5 separate regions of the Homo sapiens genome follow, and all the other regions are linked to region 1. Evidence: fine-mapped expression QTL. A gene starts in region 1. Each other region holds a variant in brackets. All regions are shown on one strand. Distances are between the middles of the regions. Region 1 holds the start of PDGFC (platelet derived growth factor C). Region 2 overlaps PDGFC (platelet derived growth factor C). Region 3 overlaps PDGFC (platelet derived growth factor C). Region 4 overlaps PDGFC (platelet derived growth factor C). Region 5 overlaps PDGFC (platelet derived growth factor C).

The links.
Region 2: its variant is fine-mapped to the expression of PDGFC in whole blood (TOPMed, PIP 0.95).
Region 3: its variant is fine-mapped to the expression of PDGFC in whole blood (TOPMed, PIP 0.96).
Region 4: its variant is fine-mapped to the expression of PDGFC in whole blood (INTERVAL, PIP above 0.99).
Region 5: its variant is fine-mapped to the expression of PDGFC in blood mononuclear cells (TOPMed, PIP 0.92).

Annotation. Positions count from the first base shown.
Region 1 is chr4:156,969,531-156,974,639 of GRCh38, reverse strand. PDGFC (platelet derived growth factor C) reads left to right here and starts at 2,841. Exons shown (of 6, transcript NM_016205.3): 1 at 2,841-3,854. The coding sequence starts at 3,737. RefSeq lists an enhancer at 2,554-3,054.
Region 2 is chr4:156,772,677-156,777,785 of GRCh38, reverse strand. It overlaps PDGFC (platelet derived growth factor C), which reads left to right. Exons shown (of 6, transcript NM_016205.3): 4 at 4,893-5,100. Among named protein-coding and RNA genes, the nearest start is that of LINC02272, 130 kb to the right of the region's middle. The variant G/A (reference allele first, on the strand shown) is at 2,302.
Region 3 is chr4:156,904,674-156,909,782 of GRCh38, reverse strand. All of the region lies in intron 1 of PDGFC (platelet derived growth factor C), which reads left to right. Among named protein-coding and RNA genes, the nearest start is that of PDGFC, 65 kb to the left of the region's middle. The variant C/T (reference allele first, on the strand shown) is at 2,158.
Region 4 is chr4:156,933,965-156,939,073 of GRCh38, reverse strand. The region is part of intron 1 of PDGFC (platelet derived growth factor C); the gene reads left to right. Among named protein-coding and RNA genes, the nearest start is that of PDGFC, 35 kb to the left of the region's middle. The variant G/C (reference allele first, on the strand shown) is at 3,033.
Region 5 is chr4:156,781,248-156,786,356 of GRCh38, reverse strand. The region is part of intron 3 of PDGFC (platelet derived growth factor C); the gene reads left to right. Among named protein-coding and RNA genes, the nearest start is that of LINC02272, 140 kb to the right of the region's middle. The variant T/C (reference allele first, on the strand shown) is at 1,958.

The DNA of each region.
Region 1 (5,109 bases):
GTAGGTTGCTTTAAAATCTTATTTCACTTAAAAACATTTAGTAGTGACACCCCCTCCCCCAAATTATCATTGTTAACCACCAAGTGTATTCTTTAGTAAGAATTTGTGGTAATACTCTTCATGCATGCAGCAGCAATGGGCACTCCTTCTTAAGGTTTAAGAAAACATGAAAACCACAAAGAATGTCTGAAATTATTTTCTCTTGGTTGGCGGAACAGATGCCTTTCATCAAGGAAAATGCCTTTGGCCAAAACAAAGCCATATTCATTTAAAATATATTGTTTAGTAATTGCACAGACTCTGGATTATATAAAATTTACTTTCAATGCAAAGATTTCATTTTTCTAGAAAAGGTTAACAAGCAAAATAGAGCAGGAAGACAGGCAGAGGATAATGTGTTAAAAGAATCAACTACGTCAAGGGCAAGAGCAGTTCAAGAAATGACAATGCAAGTACATTGAAAGGAAATTGGCCAATGTGGATGTGATTTTGTCTAGGGGTCATTCAGGAACACCTGGCTGACTTTATTTATAAGGCGATTGTCAAATCAATCTGTAGAATATGGATGAGGTGAAACGCAGAGGTAGAGTATTATTCTAGATCATCTGTAACTTTTCAAATACAACTATCGCACTGAAATTCCAGGGAGAATGTAAGTGACTCCAATAAAGAAACCTGTCAGTCAGTCAAGAGTGTTTATTTATTATCCCCCTGTGCCAAGCAATATTCTAGCCAATATGAAATGATACAAAATAAAGAGTAGTCATCACCCTTCCAATCTCCTGAGAGCAAATGGATTACATTTGCAGACACACACACACACACACACACACACACACACACACACACCCCACCTCTATGTGGGTGGTCAGGAAACTCAACTATATGGACATATAACAATTTCATTTAGAAAAGTGCTGATTAGAAAACTAAACTTACAAAATTAGAAAAACTGGAGAATAATGAATTTTATGAAAAATAGATTACAATGGATTCATAAGGCATGCCCTTTATTTAAGTCCCATTATGTTATTAAAATTGGGAATAACCCTTCACCCTCACAAATTTACAAAATATTTTTGGAACACATTATGCAAATATGGAGTCACACTGGTGTTGTGGAGCTGCTAACTCGAATAAAATACCATACTTGATAAAAAACCTTCTGTCCACTAAACTGTAAATGCCTTAAAGTCAAAGATCAGGCCTTATTTGCCTTTAGTGTATATTTAGTACTCTGTAGATAGAAGTGGTAAAGGGATAAGAATGAATGAATGAGACAGGCGGGTGAAATTTTCAAGAATGAGACAGATGGGTGAAGTTTTCAAAGGTTTCTAAAAGGGAAAAACAAGAAGACTAGGATATTCCAAGCAGAAAGGTCTGGTTGGTTGGCCCCAGTTGGTGTTCGCATATAAGAAGAGGGCTTGGCATTTTCCTCACCACTGAAGAAGGATCAGCCCCTGGTTTGGTCCAGTAAGAATATGTTCTTGCCCAAATGCCACTCCTTAGTTTCAGGGACATTGCTATTTTGGTTTTCTGTTCCAGCCCAAGTGTTCTTGATGGTCGAATTGTTTGCATTGACTTTTTTTCCACAAGAAGTTGGGTGATATTGCTGATTTGCCTGCCATGGCACTTCCTTGTTTTCATTTTGATTATTACTCAAAAATAGCTTCATTTTAAAATTCAACTTTTCTGACTCTCTGCTTGTGCCTTTAACACATTGACAATGATTTTCTGCTTCTCCACAAAGAAAGCACGTTGGATCCTGTCACAGACATATTTAGCAGACATGGAACCACCATAAGCCCTGCTTGGCATGTGTGTTTCATTTCAGACTACCTCATGAGAACTTTAGGTCTTAAAGCATCGGCCTCTCTCTCCAAGTCAGCCTGAACACAAGCCACAAGAGATTTCAGTTCTTTCTCGACCTTTTTGGTGTAAATGTAAACAATTCTATCACCAGGGGTTCAGGGCAGCCTAGTTTTGTTAGAGGCTGTATTGTAGGAAAGTCCAAGGTTGCAGGATCATTCTGAGTCCCTTAGACACCATTCTCAGAAGAGCTTGCTATTAGCTTAATGCTGCCCAACTACTACGTATGCTTCACGAGGGCAGGGACTTTTGTCTGTTTTCACTGCTACGGCTCCAACCTCTAAACAGTGCCCGACATAGTAGGCATTCAGTAAATATAGTACTTGTTAAATGGATGTTATTTTGGCTGCCTTTACTTTTGCTTTATTTGTCCTGCTTTACGGAGCTGGAAATTGGAGGAAAGCCTTTGAATTCATTTCCCTTCTTCCTTCTGTTCTGAAACTCTGGCCAAGGGTCCTAGCAAAGACCTTAGGGAGTGGGGAGCCCTCCTGGAAACTAATGACAAGTCAGGCGACAGGGGGCGGGAGAAGGAGAGCTGCAGGAAGTTCTTTCCCACTTACTTCTGCAGCACCCTTCACCACCCATCGTGCTCTGTATTTGGGGTTAGAGGTGTTCCGTGGAAGGGAAAGCAGGGGCCGCCTTGGCCGCGTTCCTCTCCTGGGCCACCGGGGTCTTGCCCACAGCGAGTCCCGCAGCACCCCCTGTCTGCGCAGCACCTGTTGACAGCCAGTGGGCGGCCAAGCCCGCTCGCGCGGACGCGTCCCAGGGCTGCCCCTCCCAGAGGCGCTGACCCCCGCCCGCCCCATCGGCCGCCTGCGGGAGAGCCGCTGAGCCGCCCCCGCTCGCCAGGCGCGCGCTCCGCCCGGGCTCGGCCCACGGCCCCCACCTCCTGTCTGCCGCCCGGCGGGGGGAAGGTAGAGAAGGGGAGGGGACAAGCCGGATCCTCCCGGCCGCCCCGGCCTTCCCTCTTCACCCCGTGCGGAGACGCCGCGCGTAGCCCCGAGGTTAGCGCGGAGCCCGAGGCGTGGGGGGAGGGGACGGGGAACAACCGGAGCCCCGCGGTGACCCCGAGCGGCCGAATTGCCCCAGGCTTTGAGGAGCGGGGGACGAGCCCGAACAAGGTGAACTTTGGTCGCGGAAAACTCAAGCCAGGTGCCGGAATCCGTGCTGCGGCGCTCCGAACCCGGGGCCAACTGCGCTCCGGGCTGAGGAGCGGGAGCCCCGCGGCCTCTCTCCGCCTGCGCCCGGGCCGCCGTCGGCCCGGAGCCCCCCGGCCCCGCTCCGGCGCCCCGGCCCGTGGGACCCGCCGCGGCGCCCTCGCCTTGTTTCTTCCCCCTCCCCCTTCGGGGGTGGGGGGTGGGGCGGGGGAGAGGGGCGCCCGGAGAGCCGCATCTATTGGCAGCTTTGTTATTGATCAGAAACTGCTCGCCGCCGACTTGGCTTCCAGTCTGGCTGCGGGCAACCCTTGAGTTTTCGCCTCTGTCCTGTCCCCCGAACTGACAGGTGCTCCCAGCAACTTGCTGGGGACTTCTCGCCGCTCCCCCGCGTCCCCACCCCCTCATTCCTCCCTCGCCTTCACCCCCACCCCCACCACTTCGCCACAGCTCAGGATTTGTTTAAACCTTGGGAAACTGGTTCAGGTCCAGGTTTTGCTTTGATCCTTTTCAAAAACTGGAGACACAGAAGAGGGCTCTAGGAAAAAGTTTTGGATGGGATTATGTGGAAACTACCCTGCGATTCTCTGCTGCCAGAGCAGGCTCGGCGCTTCCACCCCAGTGCAGCCTTCCCCTGGCGGTGGTGAAAGAGACTCGGGAGTCGCTGCTTCCAAAGTGCCCGCCGTGAGTGAGCTCTCACCCCAGTCAGCCAAATGAGCCTCTTCGGGCTTCTCCTGCTGACATCTGCCCTGGCCGGCCAGAGACAGGGGACTCAGGCGGAATCCAACCTGAGTAGTAAATTCCAGTTTTCCAGCAACAAGGAACAGAACGGTGAGTCTTTCCCCCATTCTCCCCCTGCTTGTTTCTCGCTGTGTGTGTTAACGTTGGCATTGTGCGTTGGTATGTGATATATACCAGACTGTGAAGGTATCTTTGGTCTCTCATTACATGCAAATGTGCGCTGCGTTCATTGGCATGGACTGTTAAAGGTTAAGTGTAGTTTGCAACTTCGGGAGCTGCCACAAAGCTCCAAGAGGGCAACGTGAGTGCCACTGCTGAGTGAGGACATTCTGGGAGCGATTGTGAACGTCATTTCAAATGCACATTGCAGGTTCGCTCATTGCTAAAGTTAGAAGTTCAAGAACTGCCTCTAAAAACGAATCCAAAATGAATGAGCCTTGGCATGTTTGACTTTACTCAGATTTGGGGAGGGCGAGGGGGGTCGGTCAGGAAATATATCAGCCGCATTAATTGAAGCACTCTAGGTCGAAGTCATCAATTAATCAATGAGTAGATAGGAAATATAGAGGTCAAGAGGCTGTGTGGTCGTTTTTAGAGGAATTAAAAAGTGTATTTCTCTTGCTCCCTAGTTTTTGTTTTTTAAACTTGCCTTTGTACTCTGAAGTCCTTACCTTTCTGGTGGTGTGTTTTTGTATGTGTTGGTGAATGACTGCTATTTTGTGTGTGCTGGAAACGACTTAATCCTGCATAGGAAATGAGAATTACTTTCAGCTTTCAAGTGTACCTGAAATGTTTAGAAAACTCTCAGATGCAAGTTCCCTTGGGCTGGGATTGCACAGAGCTGGAGAAAGGCTCCTTTCATAAAGCCAGGGCAGCTTCAGGGTGTGTAATTTGCTTAGCCTCTGAACCCATATGATTTACATCATTCAATTTCTAAACTCTTTTTCTCTTCATCTACCATTATGAAGTCATTTTTGAGAATACTTTGTAAATAGAAATTTTATACTGCACATGAAACCACAATGTTCATGTTAGGCTGTCTAAAATTGGAATATTTAACGCCCTGTTTACAAATGGTGGCTCTTACTGTAATTTGAAAAGGAATATACATGTTTTTACTGCTTTGTATATCATCTATTCAGAATGCAAGGATTCTGTCACTTGATTAACCATGCAAAATGAACACAAGTGGCATACCTACAAAATTAAGATAGGATGTGCTATAGTTTTAAGTCAGAGTGATTTTTTTTCCTTTTCATATTGGGGTGTTTCAAGACTTCAACTTTGAATTTAAACTCTATGAAGTGTTCATGTTTAAGAAAGCACAGAAAGTTTTAGGGTATAA
Region 2 (5,109 bases), 200 kb after region 1:
ATGATTGAACAGACATGGTGTAATATTATCCTTTGTTTGCTCCTATAATAGTTAAGTGGAGAAGTTGATGGCATGTATTAGCATTCTAGGGCTGCCTTAACAAAATACCACAGACTTAAACAGTGGTGCCTTAAACAATGGAAACTTGTTTTCTCAAAATTTTGGTTGCTAGAAATTGAGATCAGGGTGTCAGTAGGTTTGGTTTCTTCTGACACCTCTCTCCTATACTTGTAGATGTTCATTTTCTTCCTGTGTCTTCAGATGGTCTTCCCTCTCTACTATGTCTATGTTAAAATGTTCTCTTACTATAAGAACACCAATCATGTTAGATTAGGGTCCACCCTAGTTACCTTATTTTACTGATCTCTTTAAAGACCCTGTCTCCAAATACAGGCATTCTGAGATACTGTGAGTAGGACTTTAGTAGAATAGAAATTTTGAGTGAACTCTAATTCAGCCCATAATACAACGTGTGTCTATATTCATTTAAACATTTTTGGTATCAGTTTTCTAAGCACGGACTTGTTTCCTTCAGATTTTTAGGACCATACTGCTTCTATTTATAAGCCAGACATGCCTTTCTAGGATATTTGATGTCTTAAAGAGCAGGGTAAACTTCATGTACTCTCAAAATTTTATATATATATGTAAATGTAGAATTATCCCACAGTTGTACCACAGGGCAGTGTTTCCCAAAACTCACTCATCTGCTAAAACAACAAGGAGAGTTAAAAGAAAAAAAAAATAGAGTTCAGTCCCATTATAGACTTACTAAGTTGTTTATTATATTTTTGAAGCTCTCAAGATAATTTTGCTGAAGCTGTATTGGACCCTCTTGTATCTGATAATTAAGTAGAATTTTTACATGTAAAAGCTGGCAAGAAACTTGAAGGTCATTGAATATAGCTACCATATTTTGTAGTGGAGGAAACTGAGGCACAGATTGATTATGCAGTTTAGTCAAACTCTCTTCCCTACATGTGAGTATCTCTGGGATTTAGAGTCCAGTTCCTTAACTCCTGATCGTAGTTCTCTCATTATCATGTTGTCATTCAGAGTAACTTTCATCAGAGAATTTTAAAGACCCGATTTTGCATAGGATCCTTATCTCATGGAGCTGACATCTTAGAAATGTACTCTTTGGCAGGACACTTCATCACATAGATTGTAGATGCTTTTCTGCTCTTTGACAACCTGTCCTTACAAAGTAATAGGCCTAAAAGGGTCTAGGCTAGGGCCACACCCTCACCAAGCTTGTCATTACTGCCCTGCAGGTGATAACACAGAAGCTTTTCTCTGGCTGAATAAGGGTTTTGGTTTAGTTGTCTACATTGCAGAACACCAAGAAACTCTGCTTCCGGTTTGTGTCCATTGCTATCCACTAAATTGTCTTAGCACAACCTATAGCTTAAAAGTACACCATCATATTTTTATGAAGAATAAAAGACATAAACAGGAAATGTGAAAATCCAAGTCAAGGCGTATTTTGCATATTCTAACCAGTTTAACAGCCCAATCATAAGTGTTTTTAAATATCAAAAGTATTGTTAGAATTTTCTAGATACTAATTATGGGAGAAAATGCTATTAGTCTGTAATGAACAGTGTTACTTTGTTAGAGAGAAAAGTAAAACTTAAAAATTCAAAGACATTTTTTTTTCTGTAACTTCTTTTTTTCATTGCTCCCCCCTTTCTCTCTGAGAGTCCCTTTAAACAACTTAGAAAAGCAGAACTTTGAAACTGAACAACTCGGCTCTTTCTTGAACCAGTGGGTGGAGGGACAGTCATGAGAAGGCCCTTAAATAGAAGCACCACTTCCCCTGTTCTGTCCAGGGATTGATTCTTTGAATCCTGGGAACTTATGTTCATTCTTCTTTCCTGTTTTCTGGGTGGGGACCACTGTGTGTGGGGTGTGGTGGGGAAAGAGTTGTCTTTCTAAATTTATCAAATTTTAATTTAAATATTTAGAAGCTTAGAGATTTGTAACACCAACTGATCTATACATACAGTAACAGAAGATGCTTTTCTCCCAACCTTTCACATTTGAAGGGATGGGTATGCAGATTGCAGATACTTCACTGGACCTAAGGTGTGCATCTTTTGTTTGCCCATTATTACAGGCTTATCTTGTTTTGCCTTCTTTTGTGTTAATATTTTGGACTGCATCTCAGCAATATTAATTTCAGTTAGAACTTTGTATTGCTTCAAAAGAAATGCTTTATTCAGAGAGTCTCCAACAGACTGGAAGCAAAATAAGCCAAATCATTCTTGGATTACAGTCTAATTGAAATTACCCTACATA[G/A]CAATTATATTTTATGCTTAAAATATACATCTGCACCCTGACAATTTAATAAATAATGTATACTTTTTGTATTAACTTGCTAGCAACCACTTATTTTATCTGTACAGATTTTGAAACTTTCCATTTGTAATAATACTGATTCTTTGACTATTATTGACCCCTTAATTTTTACTTTATAAAACATTTGTATACATATATAGGCTTATATTTTTGAAATATGCAAAAATTTGCGTTAACTTTTTACACCATAAATTTAATCAATAGTAGCTTAATTAGCTAAATTAAAATTAAAACCGTTTTTAGATCAATGTTTATATCTATAATAGAGTTTTCAGTCATAGTTCTGTCAAAGCAATTTTGTGTTCCTTGGACAATTATAGAAAACACTGGGTAATAAAAACATATTAGGGTAATAAACTCTCAAAGTTTAACAGACTAATGGGTAGAGCAAAAATATCATAAAATAATTAGAAAATATCTTAGTCCTAATATTTTAGCCAGATCCTTGACATTATTGAAATTAAGTCTTTAATAGTAACCATTGTACTGTATATATATGTACTTACACATTTTCCATGTATCTTTGCGTATCTTTGTTTATTCTGTAACATCATGTCATAAACCTCAGATATACAAAATAAAACTTATTTAAAAAACAAAAAGATGAAAGGAGTAACAGCTGAGTGGAGACTTGGAAAGTACATGTGAGTAATCCAGGCAAGGAAGGAGGCCAGACATTGTCATTCCACTGTGCTTTTCTCATAATGCACACACAGGCCCTGGAACACTGTAGTTACTCAATAAACTTTTGTTAAAAAAAAAAAAAAAAAAAGGATGAAATCATTGTTGGCCCAAGGCTGCCACGTTCATTTCTGCCGATTATACCCTGTAAGAATGTTCCCCTGTGGGCAGCGGGACACCCACAAAGCCAGGAGCCCCACGAGGGTTGTGCCTGTCCAGAGGAAAGGTGCTCCTTTTCCTAGTTTACTGGGCAGCTTCTGCTCTTCAAGCCAAGTGCTCACAGAGCAGCCCACAGAGGGCTGTGGGACAGTGATGACCCTGTTGTGCCAGGTTTCATGGATGAATTGGATTTTTGAAAAGGTCATTGTAATGGTAAAGATTTATGATGTGGATCAACGGGGGGAGAGTTTTTGCATGTCAGGTATGGGGACAGATTTAGCATAAGTTACAAAGTCTGAGATGATATTATATGTGCAGTAGTCAGTGAAGAGACTAGACTGATTGGAACAAAATATGCATGTCTCTGATGAGTAGCAGATTAGAGTGGAAGGTGAGCAGAGGTCAGTTTTTGAGGGCTCTGAATGCTGTGTAAGGAATTTGGATTTTATCCTCCAGATGAGAAATCACATAGGCATTTGTCCAAATTCATCATAGGATCAGTAATATCTTATTTAGTAGATTAACCCAGGATTATGCAGCATAGAACAAAAGGAGAGAAAAATGATTAAAGGTAAGGAGATAAGGTTAGAAGCTGCTATTTATAGTACATGTTTTTAGTATGGAGCCCAGGATGGAAGTAATGAGAATGAAAAGGAAGAGCCGATGTGTTAGTGTTTTCCTATATGTGGGCATTTAGATTGCTTCCAGTCTTTCTAATCATTGAACATATTTCCATGTGCATAAGTGAAAGAATATTCAGTGCTTATCAGTTACATCAGCTAAAGTGTTGTGCCTACGTACACTAACTTCTGCAGGCAGAGCAGAGGAGTTCCAATTTAATCACATCCTCAGTAATCCTTTTTAAAATTCTTGCCCATCTCATCTGTGTGAAAAAGTATCCTTTTTTCGTATGTGAAATAATATCTCTCTTTGGATTTCTCTGATAATGAAGTTCAGCATATTTTCATATGTTTATTGACCATTCAAGCTTTTTATCTGTAATATGCCCATTTTTCTTCCATTGCATTTGTCTTTATTTTTGTATATTCTGGATACTAATCTTATGACAGTCACATAGTTTGTCAGTGTGTTCTCCAGTGTCCCTCCGATCTCTTAATCTTGTTTATTAGGCATTTTATATTAAAAATATATTGTAGGCAATTTATTAAGCTGATCTTTTATGATTTAGATATTTTCTATCTTGATTAATAAGTTCTTTAATGTCAAATGATTTCTAACTATTTTGTTCTAGATCTTTTGGGTTAATTATTTCTTATTCCATTTTTAATTTATGTGACACTAATTTGCATAACTACCAGGTAATTTTTCAGATTAAGGAAAATGAAAAGTGGAAAAGAAAAGGAAAATTTGGTAAACTGTATTATAGTTTTCATTCTAAGTTTGTAATTGAACCATGAAGATATTTTTAATTCTTTTATATGACCAAAAGATATCCATATCCCTCACGGTTGGTGGTAATGAAAATTAATGTCTTTCTCATTGATTTTACAGGAAATCTATCAGAGTTCATCTTCATGAAGTCTTTGCAGAGTAGTTATTTCTAATTGGATTCAATACAATTTCCCTTCACACATATTTCCAGCCTCAGTCTTTATAATTTCTTGCATATGTCCAGAAGGAATACATTGTCGTTTTTAAAACAGTTAACACAGGATTCATTTTACTTTCAGCAATTCACAGAAGCTGTGAGTCCTTCAGTGCTACCCCCTTCAGCTTTGCCACTGGACCTGCTTAATAATGCTATAACTGCCTTTAGTACCTTGGAAGACCTTATTCGATATCTTGAACCAGAGAGATGGCAGTTGGACTTAGAAGATCTATATAGGCCAACTTGGCAACTTCTTGGCAAGGCTTTTGTTTTTGGAAGAAAATCCAGAGGTAAGCTCC
Region 3 (5,109 bases), 65 kb after region 1:
TCAAGGGGTTAGGACTTGGACGTATATCTTTGAGGGAATACTGTTCAGCCCACTACAGTAGTCAAGGACACAGTAAAAGAAAATCAGTGATAATTCTATTGTTCAGAGAAAACCCACTGTTAACATTGGAATGTATTTGTATGTGGATATTTGTGGAAATACATGTGTGTATACATGAGATCATATTATATCTAATGTTTTATATCTTTCCTATTTACCTTTGTTTCATAAACAGTTTTCCAGGAAAATATAGTAGTAGTTCACTGAGTGACATGTACTTATAATTATACAGATGTAAATTACACTCTCCCAAATGTGTTTGTATTTCTGGCTCACTTGTTTGGTTACTTTCTCCTCTGAAGTTTATTTTCTGGCCATAATATTTGCAATGCTAAGAGAGAATTCTGTTTGTCCCAACTTTAGAGAAGTTTAGGTAGATGAACTTGTGGAATGGCTTTTTATAAAAAGCAAATTTCACTTTATTTTAGGAATTTCTTGTCTGAATAATAGCTTTATTGAGATATAATTCACATACCATAAAATTACCCATTTAAAGTATCCAATTACATTGTTTTTAGAATACTCACAGTTGTGCAACTTTAGAATATTTTTCTCTTCTCAAACTCAGAATATTTTCATTATCTCAAAAAGTAATACTCGTTAGCTGTCACCTCCTTATTCTCTCAAATGCTGGTATTTATTCCCCCATATGCCTTATTCTCTAAGCAAATACTGATTTACTTTGTAGAAATTACCTATTCTGTACGTTTTACAAACATGAAATTGTATATGTGTGGTCTTTTGTGACTTCTCCTTTCCCTTACCATAATGTTTTCCAAGTTCATCATTTGTGGCATATGTCTGTGTTTTCTTCCTTTTTATGGCTGAATAATAGTTTCTTGTATACATATGCCACATTGTGTTCAACCATTCATTAGTTGGACATTGGATTATTTCCAACTTTTTGGGTATTATGAATAATACTCTTGCACTTGTCTGATTGTTACATAAGTCTATTGAACTATAATTTCAAGCACAAGTCATATTAAGAGATAACTGGCTTGGATGGGAATAATTAAATGTATGGTAGGTTTAGGTAGCCAGAAGTCAACACAGAATTACTGGATGGGAAAGAGGTCATTGAAAGGATTGGGTGTTTGCAGAAGCAGAGGTAAGATATCATCACAGTTCTACTAACATTTTGCCACATAGGTTATTTTGTCCAATGTTGTGATGACAATTTCCTAGTGCCAAGTTTGTTCTTTGTATTACTTAGAATAAGAAAAAATGCCATACTTCTGTTTTACTAATTGGCAGCTATTATCATTTATATAAATATTCTAATTCTAATTTGGCATTTCTAGATTGAAATAAATATTTATTTATTTATTTACACAAATGAGCATAAATAAAGGAGGTAAATTATCTAGTAAATTGCCTTTCACAAAGTATTATATATTGACACCAACTACTCTAGGTAATTAGAATAATGTGATAATGCATCATAAATCTCTTAATATTTTATTATTGATCTATTAATATTTTATTATTGCCTTAAAGCTAAGCTTTGTTTTGTTAAATGAGATATAAAGGAAAGCTGCTGCTTTTTTCTTTTTTGGAATGGAGTCTCACTCTGTCGCCCAGGCTGGAGTGCAGTGGCACGATCTCGGCTCACTGCAACCTCCGCTTCCTGGGTTCAAGTGATTCTCCTACCTCAGCCTCCCAAGTAACTGTGACTAAGGTGCATGCCGCCATGCCCAGCTAATTTTTGTATTTTTAGTAGAGACGGGGTTTCACCATATTGGCCAGGCTGGTCTTTAACTCCTGATCTTGTGATCCTCCTGCCTTGGCCTCCCAAAGTGCTGGGATTATAGATGTGAGCCACTGTACCCAGCCAAGCTGCTGCTTTTATATAACACTGGAGGAGACAGTAGGAAGGACTGGACATGTTTGGTGACCTGGAGTGTGGGGGCATCTGCTTCAGGACACAAGCCCTAGCCAGCATGGAGGCTCAATCCAAGAGGTTAGGGCCACTTCATCCCAGGTGAAGGACCCCCAGTCACAGCCAGGAATGCCTAGCACATGCCTGCTTATAGGTAACCACCACATCCATCTTGAGATGCCCACACCCAGAGGCCTGGCAAGAGCTCCACCCAC[C/T]GACTGAGATTTGACACACAAGTCTGAAGGTCCCAACTCCCTCGAAGATTCTTTTCAACCATGAGGACTAGTGAGTGGGGGGCCCTCAATGTCTCTAGACATTGAGGTGAATTGAAAGATGCAAATTCAGGTGAAACAATCTTTATCTCATTCATCTTAAGAGATGAAACCCTTAAACCTTTATGTTCCCTTTCTCCAGGTGTAGATTGCTAAAGTAAACTCTTTGTATCCTTGGATTTTCTTTTGTTTGCATTTTTGGCATGCATTTTATATTATGTAATCTCACTCATTTGTTAGCAAATGTGTGTTTTATGATTAGAATTAGGTGCTAATGTAAGAAAATCTGGCTAAAAATCAACATGTATAAAAACAGTGGTTTTATTTTTTACATTACAAAGATGTGAAAGACAGGTGTCACTTAACAAGGCATGCATTTTAAACATCTCTTTAAAAGTCTATCAGTAATCTCTTTTTGGTCCATTTTTATTTTTAAGTCATGGTGGTGGTATATTCTCCTAATCTAAGATACTGGGCTCCAAGTATTTACATGTTCTGAGTAAAATAAACAGATTTCATAAACAGTAGATTGTTATTTGTTTATTAGACAAAAGTACATTTTCTTCCTGCAAGACTTAATTTCTGTTATAAAACATGTTTTGGCTGCATCCATGTTAGTTCATCAGTGTATCCATGCAAGGTGAAATGGAAGGGGCAGAGCTGAGATCCCAGCATAAGCCAGCCTTCTATTACCAGTGAGGCTTTCTTTGGAAGTGAGTGTAAAATTAAAGAATATCAGATATTATTCTAGAAATTAAGGGAAACGTATGATTAACTTTTATTAATTTTTGTTGTGACTCCCTCAGAACAATGACTAGAGTAGCCAGAAACCTAAGTCTGCAAAGAGGAAATGCTCTTGTAAGAGCAATATGAACCAGAAGTCTATTTATGCTGTAATTATATCCCAAAACTTCAAAGATAAACCTTTGTCCGTGCTCAAGATTTTTAAAAGTACATCATAAATCTTTTTTAAAACTGTCCCCCTAAGCTACCTTCCAGGAATTCTTAATTACAATGTAGTGAAAAACCAGGAAGTCAACTCCTATTACTCATCTGTCTACTCTTAAAATTATAGTTTTACATCCCATTGTATCACGTTTTACAAGTGATTATAAAAATATAGTAAATCAAAGGGTGAAAGTGATTATTCCTACTTTACACTACATAAAAGAATAAGCCAAACCACTCCTCACCATGAGCCATAAACATTCAAGAATTTTAAACAATGGAATAGAAATTGAATTTACTATATTTAACAATGGATATAATTGAAATGGAAAAAAGGGCAGAGAAAGCTTAAATTTGTCGTATTCAAAATTTATGACATTAAGAAACCTGAGCAAGCAGTATTTTTAAGTGATTTGTATTTAATTGTTTGGGTACACCGAACTTCTGAAATATTCTTGTTTTTAAAATATTCTTACTTGTTTTGAAAATTTCTGATAACTTCAGAAGTGCTAGTATGTAAAATGTGTGTTATATGTCATCTATAACATATATACATAAACATGCATATGTATAGATTATAAATGTATATCTCTGTGTATACTTACACAAGTATCTGATGAAGCATCTTTTAATACTGGGTTTCATCTGTTGCTTTTGGTCACTGACACTTTACATAACAGGCTTGTAAGCAGAGCTAGGATGTATTTTTGAGGTGATGTATCTACAGTATATTAAATGTGATATAGTACATGGCAATTATGTTGCTTTATTGTTTCAGATCTAGAATGTAGGTCTTGCGTGTAGATGTAAGCCCTTGGGTAACACAGCATAATCTTTCTAATGTAATTAAAATAAAGCTGAGCCCTTCAAACTCTAGATAGACTTACTTTGGTATCTGGGCAAATAGTGTTTCTTTGAGAATGAAGCAGTGATTAGATGCAGATATTCTGAATGGTTGACAGGAGAGAGAACTAGAGACATATTTTCTACTCCAGGTTGAACTGCTTGATAGTTTGGAAAATGTTGATCAGAAATGTATTTTAGACAGAATGTGAAGCTTTGAAATCACAGGCTTGGGTATGCATCCTGGCTCTAACACTTCAAACTCTGTGTTATTTGGGTTAACTTTATTAATCTCCTTGAGTCATGATTTCAGTTTACGCATTGCACATTATGGGCAACTATCTCATCTTTGAGAAAAAAATAAACATAAATGATTATAAATTGGCACATATAATACAAAAGTGATATTATGGTCACTATGAGGCTTTTTTTGAGAATTGAGTAAAGTCATGAATATAAAACATCAAAAACAGTGTCTGTCATATAAGGGACATTCAAAATATGGTGTCATTATTCAGTAGGTGCTCTCAGATTGCCAAACTTTTATTTGCTAAGGAATTATGATTAATTCATTCAATAGAGCTTGAAGGTTATATTTGAAATTAGTATTTATTTCTCAATCTAAGCCTATCTCAAGATGATCCCAGCTCCAGCTTCTTGATCATTTTTGTATTTCCCTTATGTGCAAGAGGCACAGAATCTGGTTTTACCAATCCCATAGTGTCCAGTGTAATGCTAAGATACAGGAATTTAAGCAAGTGTTCCATCAGCTCAAAAGATAATTTTCTTTTTAAGAGATGATCTCCAGGTAATTTTATTTTTAACATGTGCTTGTATTGAGCAAATATTTATTGGGCAAATATTATATGCCAGCAATTCAGCAGCAAACAACATATCAATTCTCTGCTGTCACTGAGCCTTACTTTGCAGTGGGGATAGGCAATCAGTAAACATTTAAGTGTAGATATGTCAGTTGGTAATGAGTGCCAAAAACAAAAATAAAGCAAGAATAAAGGGTTAGTGAACCTAAATGCACCTGTTGGCAGGTACTATTTTACCAGCCTGGGAAGGATTTGCTGAGGAGGTACATTTGAGCTTCAGGTG
Region 4 (5,109 bases), 36 kb after region 1:
GATGCATTCATGGACAATACTGAATCACAAATTGCAGACCCAAGGAGGGCTGTATTCTGTACTGGTTTTGACCTCTTGTTAATAGGAATTATGATATTTGATGGGATTGTGGTTTTTACTCCAAGTGAATTTGGTTTTAAAATTTAAAATTACTATACCTATTTTAATACTTAGATTATTTTTCTAAGGATTGAACAATATAAAATAAATTGTATTTATATTAATAATAGTTTACTTATATTATTTATAATGTTGTTGTGCTATTATATTAGTATGTTCATTAAAGTATTAAATATACAGATCATAGATAACTTTTAGATTTTTCCTTTTGAATAAAGTGCCTAAAATTCACTTGCAAATAACCACTTTTAATATTTTCTTACACAGCTTTTTATAACTTTTTACATATGAATACTTACTCATATCTTTATTTTTTACAAACATGAAATTTTATATGTATGTTATTAAACATGCTTTTTAAAATCTGAGTTTTGTCAGTTTTTTAAATATAAATATTGACTTGTTATTGCCATGGTTCTTACACTGTTTTAGATCATTTGATATTATAAAGAAATCTATGGAATATTTCCTTCCCTCAAAAAATGTATCTGCAAGAAAATGTATAAAGTTTTATGGGTCCCAGGACCATGAATCTCTGATCAAGAGCCATTGGTCATGTCATCAGTTCTTAACTGCTTCATGGATTCTAACTTAAGTTTACACAGCTTAAGTTTTATTTAATCAGCACGTTATGATTGGATTCTAGGATTTTTTTATTTAGCGCTTAGGATCTGCTCTACAGTGAATACCTTGGTATCTACATACCTTTTACATATCTCTATATTTCTTTCATTAGAGTGACTTCCTAGAACTTGAATGATTGGATCAAAATTTTACCTTTTTTCCTAGTATGTTATGTATGTGTGTGTGTGTGTATTTTCATATAACAAACTAACTTAAAATTGTAAAAATTTGTCCTTTCGTAAGAAATCTGTATGTAAAAGTACTGTTTCACCTCATTTGGCATAATTCTCCCAATCTTTGCCAACCTGATACTACACAAATTTAATATATTAATTTAGTAGGTTGTAAATGTATCAATATTAAGCACATTATTAAAATTGAGAAGAATTTTTAGTCCCTGGTTTTGTTTCTCTGTAATTTCTTCATTATTCTCTAAAGAACTTTATCTTAAGGTAATTTTTTTTTCCACCATGAATCAAGTTGCTACTGAAATACATTTGCCTTTCAACCAATATTAGGGTTGTATTGTATTGTGTAAACACAGGAAATAGTTTAGAGATTTCAGGCACTTTAGAAAATATGTTTCCACCATGTTCAGATAGGTGAATATGCCTTTCTTATTTATTTATTTAGAAAAGTTTTGTTTTGTTGCCCAGGTTAGGTTGCAGTAGCACGATCACAGCTCACTGCAGCGCCAACCTCCTGGGGCTCATGTGATCCTCCCACCTCAAGCCTCCTGAGTAGCTGGGACTAAAAACTGCCACCATGCCCAGATGAATTTTTTGTATTCTTTGTAGAGATGGGGTTTCACTATTTTGCCCAGGCTGGTCTTGAACTCCTGGGCTCAAGCCATTTGCCTTCCTCAGCCTCCCAAATTGCTGGGGTTACCAGTGAGCCACCGTGCCTGACCACCTTTCTTATTTTTAATTATTCAAGTAATTTCTTTGAATCTTCACTTAGGGTTTCATTGTGGTGGTCTCCAGAAGAAATACCTCATATTGGGTTTGCGGTGGAAAGATAACAAGATTTTTTCCAGCTTTAGACATAATTTTATGCGTTCAAATTATTGAGAAACAAGAATCAATGCTTTAAATGATGATGTTTCCAAGATTGCATCCTTGATCCATTCTCTTAGTATATCCTTTTCTTCAGAAATGCCTTCTATCACTATGGCTTCAATAACCATGTATTTATTGATAATTTCAAATCTCTTTTTTCAGCACACACCTTGCTTTTTTCACTCAGACTCATCTGTCCATATGCGTGCAGTGCTGTCTACGTGGATGTTCCCTTAGTGCTTCAAGTTTGACATGTTCAAAACTGATCTTATTTCTCAGCTCTTAAATTTGGTTCTGGTCATGAATTCCATTGCATAGAGCATAATATTTTTCATCAAATTGTTCACATCAGAAACCTGAGTCCCTCTTCTTCGTTCCTATTTTCAAATGTTTTCCAAGATCTGTTTTTGCTGCTTCGTTGACATACCTTAGGCATTCCTTTCAGTCCCCTCTGCTGCTTAGTTCAAGGCAATACGATAGTATTCCTGATTACTGCAGTAATCTCTAATTTGTCATTCTTCTTCCATTCGTCTACTCCATCCCATCCATCAACAATGGTGTCCGACATGTCAGTCTTTTAAAATTTCTTCACAGCTCTGCTTTGCGTTTGGATAAATTCAAGTTCCTTTGCAAGACTTTTCAAATATTTCCTCTTTTTCCAATTGCCTTTTCCTGATTCTTCTCTAGTGTTTCTTCTATCCTACACTCTTCATCTACCTCATGATCTAAATACATGGAGAAGAACAGAAAGCTGAGTGCTGGGATTGGTAGGTTCCAGAGAAAGGGTAAAAAACTGTTGTTGTTGTATTTTTTAAGACAAAGTAATCATTTATTAAACCAACTAATTGTATTAGTTCTTCCCTCTCCTTTGGTTAGGAATGAGTTGAGAGGTGGAGGCCAAGGGGGAGAGAGACCTGAAATGTGGTAGAAATTCTCCTCTGAGAGTTTCCATTTCTCCCAATTTTGATCCATTCTTGAGATGCAGTCAAGGTTTGAAGTTTGAATACTCTCTAGGGGAACAAGGTCCTCCTCATAGTACCTGAAGAAAGATACTTTTTGAAACTCATTCTATTACGACGTTGGGTGGATACTGATTTCACTAAAAGACAGATCCAACTGTGATGGGAAGTCACAGAGCTAGCAAGTAGCAAGGTGTTTTTAGTATTTTCTGACACCAACCAAAGAGAGTGCTTATTTATATTTTAATATTAATCTCCAATGACCATAACA[G/C]GAAGAGGAAAGATACTGATTTGTAATTACAACTTCACATGTATTTTCGTTCTAGCAATTGTCAGGTTTTTTCCTCCCCTGTCTATGACCCCTAAATAGTCAGTATATAGATTTTATAAAATGTGTACTTGACATTTTAATTTCCTTGAGGGCAGGGACCTTGTATAATTTTGTATTCATGTTGTTTAACACAAGATCTAGCATATACAGTGTAGTCTCATTTTTCATGGTATTGATGGTCTGTAAAGCCATTGCAAACACTAAATTAATGAATAATGAACTGTTGCTGCTATGGCTCTTACAAGATTAGGTTCCTGCGAGTTCCTGGTCACAACATATTCGTCAGCTGATCAATACAAACCTTATTTTATGTGTGTTTCTGTATAAAGACATCTTATTTAATATATAGTCATGTGCTGCATAACCATGTTTTGGTCAATGATGGACCACATATATGACAGTGGTCTCATCAGATTTTAATGGAGCTGAAAAATTCCTATCCCTTAGTGAGGTTGTAGCTGTTGTAATGTTGTAGTGCAGTGTATTACTCACATGTTTGTGGTGATGCTGGTGGAAACAAACCTCCTGCACTGCCAGCCCTGTAAAAGTGTAGGACATAACATTATGTATAGTGCATAATACTTGATAAAGATAATGAATGACTGTGTTACTGATTTTTGTATTTGCTATACTATTTATTATTTTAGAGTATATTCCTATTACTCATATTTAAAAAGTTAACTGTAAGTCAGACATGGTGGCTCACGCCTGTAATGGCAGCACTTAGGGAGGCCAAGGCGGGCAGGTCATGAGGTCAAGAGATCGAGACCATCCTGGCCAACATGGTGAAACCCCGTCTGTATGAAAAATACAAAAATTAGTTGGGCGTGGTGGTGCACGCCTGTAGTCCCAGCCACTCGGGAGGCTGAGGAAGGAGAGAATCGCTTGAACCCAGGAAGCAGAGGTTGCAGTGAGCCGAGATCATGCCACTGCACTCCATCCTGGGGACAGAGCGAGACTCCATCTGAAAAACAAACAAACAAAACAAAACAAAAAAACGTTAACTGTAAGAAAGCCTCAGGTATGTTTTTAGGACAGATTCCAGAAGAAGGCATTATTATCATAGGAGATGACATGTCCATGCCTATTATTGCCCCTGAAAACCTTCCAGTGGGATAAAATATAGAGGTGGAAGACAGTGATATTGATGGTCCTGATCCTGTGAAGGCCTTGGCTAATGGGTGTGTTTGTCTCTTCTGTTTTTCATTAACAAAGTTTAAAGGTAAAACAAAATAAAAAAAATTTAAAATTAGAAACAAGCACATAGAATATGGATATAAAGAAAGAAAATACTTTTGTGTAGTTGTGCAATGTGTATTTTAAACTAAATGTTATTGCAAAAGAGTCAAGTTAAAAAATTTAAAAAGTTTATAAAGTAAAAAGTTACAGTAAGCTAAGGCTAGTATATTATGTAAGAAAGTAAAATATTTAACAAATATATTTAGTGTAGCATAAGCATTTAGCCTTTATAAATTCTACAAAAGTGTACAGTAATGTGCTAGGCCTGAAAATCACTCACCACTCACTCACTGACTCACTGAGAGCAACTACCGGTCCTGTAAACTCTGTTCATGGTAGGAACTCTATACAGGTGTACCATTTTAAATCTTTTATATTGTATTTTTGCTGTACCTTTTCTATGTTTAGATATATAATACTTACCGTTGTATTACAATTGTCTACAGTTTTCAGTACAATAACATGCTTGACAGGTTTGTAGTCTGGGAGCAGTAGGCTGTACTACGTAGCCTACGTGTGCAATAGGCCATACCATTTAGGTTTGTTTAAGCATGCTCTATGATGTTAGCACAATGACAAAATCGCCTAAAGACACATTTCTCAGAATATATCCCAGTTGTTAAGTGACTCATGACTGTATATTGGTGATTCATTAACATTAAGCACAAGGCACTATAATTCATGCCTGAAGGAAGCTTATCTAACACACATATTTTCTCTGTAAAGTCATGTGTTAGTTCATTTTCACACTGCTGTTAATATAAAGAACTACCTGAGA
Region 5 (5,109 bases), 190 kb after region 1:
TTTTACTTCTTCCTGCTTTTACTTTTTTCCTGCAATACACTTTACCATCTAACATTGTATGTGCATTATTTATGTTGTGCATGGTCTGTTTTTCTCCAATAGAATATGTATTACATAAAGGCAGAGATATTTACTTCTTTTGTTCACTGCTTGATCCTCAGCACCTAGAAGAGTGTCTGGCTCGTATTAGTTGCTCAGTATGTATTTATTGCAAATGAATATATATTACATAAATGGTGACAAGATAGATAATCAAGAGCCTATTAGTGTGGTTATGAATGATCATATTATGTTGATTAGGGTAATGGTGATTAGTTTCACAGTACCGTATCTGAAATCAGCTGAAGCAATGAAAGTTTTAGGGAAATAAAGATGATTTCAGAGCATTGTACACTTAGGGCAAAGCGATACAGAATAGAGGGGCAGGGTAAAGAACAAGGCAAAGAAAAGAATGTAGGAAGATATTTTTTCAATTGACCTTGAACTTTGTGGGAAGATATTGATCAACTGACCTAGAACTTTATTAAATCTCACTGTGACTTTGCACCTCCTGAGTATTCTAGCCCTGCCCAATGTAGACATTAGATTCTACATGGAAAAAAATGTGCATTATTTTAATAGTCCCGTAAGTTGATCCTAGTTGATAGAATTTTACCTTTTGTAACTGCATGAATGTTACACTTTGAAGAGTCGGTCATCTCTCACCTGTACTGACAATGCTGTTCAGTCACCCCTTTATCTGATGCTGGCTGCTCCCTTTCCAGACTGTTGTGCACCCAGTAGATTCCTTGCATATCAGATTGAGAACTGATGGATCTACTTTTAGAAGTTTATTAAACTTAGGGCCGGGCACAGTGGCTCACATCCGTAATCCCAGCACTTTGGGAGGCTGAGGCTGGCAGATCACCTGAGGTCAGGAGCTCGAGACTAGCCTGGCCAACATGGTGAAACCCCATCTTTAAAAAATACAAAATACAAAGTGCAAAAATTAGCCAGGTGTGGTGGCGGACCCCTGTAATCACAGCTACTTGGCAGCCTGAGGCAGAAGAATCCCTTGAACCCTGGAGGCAGAGGTTGCAGTGAGCCAAGATTGCGCCACTGTACTCCACACACCAGCCTGAATGACAGAGTGAGACTCCGTCTCAAAAAAAAATTCAGAACAGTAAGATCTTAGCCTGGGTGTCCTTAGTCTCTGCCTATGCAGAATGTGAATCATCCTGTTTGCTTTATAGTTTATATCACAGTGGCAATCATATCCCTGAGCTGTTAGGGATCAAAGTTTCTACATTGTTCTCATGTACACTAAAAATTATTGAGAATAAAATGGACCACTGTACATACATAAAGTGTAATCATTTATTTAACAGCCTTCCAATTATGAACATTTGTTTTAAATTTTATTTTTAATTTTCTCTATTAATAATGCTACAATGACTATCCTTGGATTATACTTCTGATTATTTCCTTAAGATAAAAATTCTGAATATGGAATTACAGGATCTGAAAAAATGGACACTTTTAAGACTGCTTGTGGAAAATATTGTTGAATTGTCTTACAGAAATACTTTGACATTTTAGTCTTCTTTACAGTTCATGAGAAAAATATTTTTGCCCCGTCTTGATCTACAATTGACATTAACTCTCCTCTGTCTTCTGATTTCTTTTATTCATTGGCCTTCTTTTCTAATTGCAAATATACACGTATTTCTGTACTTATTATATTAAGCTTTTTTCTAATCTTTCTTCTCATAAATCTATGATTCTTTCTTATTTTTTTCTCCCTGCCAAACTTAATGAAAAAGTTCTACTTGCTTTCTCCATTTCACTGCTTTTTAACGGCCCCCTTTCTTCCTTTCTTACTTCGATGAAACTTCTCTATTCCTAAGGTCACAGAACACCACCTGTGGAATAGCTACAGTGGCCTACTTTTACTCCTCTTTCTTGTTGATCTTTCCAT[T/C]ACTTTGATGTTATTCTCCCTCTTCTACTCCTCAAAACTCTCTTCTCCTTGGGAGGAAAAATCACTAAGACCTCCAGGCTCTCTTCCCGACCCTTAGATTGATCTATTTTGAGACACCAGTGCTGGTTGATCCAGTGCCTTGGCCATTGGTCTAAGTATGGGGAAATCCCATTTTCCTGTCTTCTATCCTCTTTTCTTTTCATGTGTGCTCTTAGCTCATGGCTTTAACATTTGACATTTGTATATGTTAATGATTATCTTTCTCTATTCCAAGTGAGTCCTCTATATTTAATGCCACAAAAATGTTTGCAGTTGTCTGCTGGATATATGCGTGTCAATACACCTCCACTTATTATAAATTGACCCAACCTGAACTTTTCCTTCTTTCTTACCAATTTTGCCTGTATTACATAGTTATGTCACTGTTAATGCATTCCCTGAAGCTAGAATCATTTAAAATTAAGCATATCTCTTCTCTCCCTGATTCCCCATCCCACCAGCTACCAATCCTGTTGGTTCTACCATGGTCATGTACTTTGCCACCCTTCTTTTCATTTGTTTTCCTCAATGGTGGTAATCAATCAGATCATAAAGCATACTCTTTTTAGCACTTCATTAATATTCTGTCAGATCCTGAATACTATTGGAGATCAAAATATCCAAAAGACATCAAGATTTGGCCCCACCATGAAAGAACTTCGAGGCAAGTAGGAGGGACACGTACAACAATTTCAATTTGATGTAGTGCTAGACATATGAACAGAATGGTGGATCACAAAGGTCGACCAGCTTAGAGGTAGTCGTGTATATATAGAGAGAGGTCTCACTAGTGGAAGCCTCCTGGAGAAGCTGAGTCTTTATTAGTGGGTAGTGATTAGCCATGTGACAAGGCAATAAAAGCAGTTATTATTAACAAAGGGCAACATCAGGAGCAAAGGTTCAGATGCCAAAGCCTTGTTCATGGCTCCCACCAGAGTCTGCACACCCCCTTCTCCCAACCCAAGGCACCTCCTCACCTAAAATAGAAGTAGAAAGCCAGAAAAATTAAACTTGTATGTATCCCACCTTCCTTAACATCTCTTTTGACTCTTGTACTGCTTTGTGATTAAATCCAGATTCCATAGCATGGCACACACAAAGCCTTCCCAATCAGACCCCAATTCATTCCTGCAGCCTCACCTTCCACCATCTACTCTCCCCCTAATAGCAATGCTTTGTCACAGTCTTCATCTTTTTCTTCACCCAACACCATTTTTTTCCAACTCAGTTTCTTTGTAAATATCTAAAGTGCTTCTCCCTTCTAATCTATATAATAATTACTTTCTAATTCTCTAAGCTCTAGATTAACTTTGATCTCTTCTTTGTATCACCTCCTTAATTCTCTAGGCAGAATTAATCACACTCACAGCACTTGGGTTTTTACTTCCGTTATAGTCATTACCTAAAGGACACAGGTTTTTCCATCAAGAGATACGAACCTCACAATGGCTATATTATTCATATTCTTCATTTGTTGTGAGCACGTGACAGGAGTATAATATAGTCTACTGAATGATTTAACTTTTTATCTAACCCTGTTTTCAGAGCCATATCTTGCTTGTATCAATAGAAGAAGCCTTTTCAGGTGTGTTTGAGGTGACCGTACCAACTTTTCACAAAAATATTCTATGTTCTCTGTTGCCCCTGGTGATCGTTTTGACCTGCCCAGAATTCTGACCGTGAGACACAATCTCATTTTAGTGTGGTGACCGACATGTAAAAACATGACCAAAGAACATATAACTGTTTATGCTTTTATTTTTTGAAAGTGTTCAGATCTGTGCATGAGTACTAAAGATTTTATGGCAGAATAGGGATGTCACAGAGTGATTTAAAAATGTAAAAAAAATGCCCAAACACTTCACAAAATAATTATCATTTATATTTTTCTCCATTGTTGAAATAGGAACGGCATGCTAACTAGTTACTTTACAGAAGTTTCTTTTAATGTAACACCGTACACTGTAATTAAGATACCAGTGACATGGTGGGCCTCAGAGTTGAAATCCTGCATTTTGCATAGGATTTTTTGTTGGTTTCATTTCATATAAAGATTTTATAGGCAAAGAATATGAATTCAGAAAACCGACATAGGATAAGTGAGCAGCCAAGGGTATCATTATGCTTATTTTTTAAGTTCTTTAGCACAGAGGTATTCGTAGCCATAAAGATTAATTTGCTGATGTGTAATGCCCATTTCTCCCTCCAGAACAACTACTGAATATAAATCTGTTTTAGAAGAGAAAGAAGTCTGTTTCAGAATTTTCCTTGTAGGGTTGGACAAGCTCTGATTTGCCACATCAGTCTAGAAAGAATGTTGGGTGGAGATGTCATTGAACGCTGCCTAATGAGGTCATGCCACTCCATGTAACACAGACCAACATCAATCATGAGCTATATTTTTTAAAATAATTATTTATCTTTGCTAAACTTGGTACAACTTGGGTAATTAAATATATAATAAAAATGTGTATGATAATCCCTAAATATGTATAGTGCTGAATTGTTTATTAAATTTTTAAAATATGCTATTTTGCTTAATCCTTATACCAGTTTTCCTAGGTAGGTGGAATCATCCCTCCTTTGAATACCTGTTCCTACAGACACACACATAAATGAGGTGTTCACCATGTAATTTTGACAAACGCCCCATTTTCTATGGCTGGTAGGTATGCCTCCCCTACCCTGAAGAAGAGAGTACTGTTTGCATTGTCAGCAGTAGGAGAGTTAGTGAGTGCCTTCTGACAGGATAAAATGTACCTGGGAGGGATGAATGGCAGGTTGCAGGAGGCATACTGCATTAACCGAGGCTTGTGAAATCTGTACAAAGCCCTTCCATTGAGTTCCACTGTGAATAATCTATAGAATGTTTAAAATAAAGGCCATTTTTTAAGTTTGAAATTTAAAAGCAGGATATTTTTCTAGAAAAGTAATTGGTATTTTTACTAATACTCTATTGACCATTTGTTGTAGAATGTGTAAATTTCTGTTATTTAATTCAGACAACAATGGCAAAGGCATTGTTTAACAGGGAGACCAGTTAGAAGACTGTTTCACATGTTGGCCTGAATTGTAAAGTGGCAGCAATGGAAGTAGGGAAAATGGTCAGATTC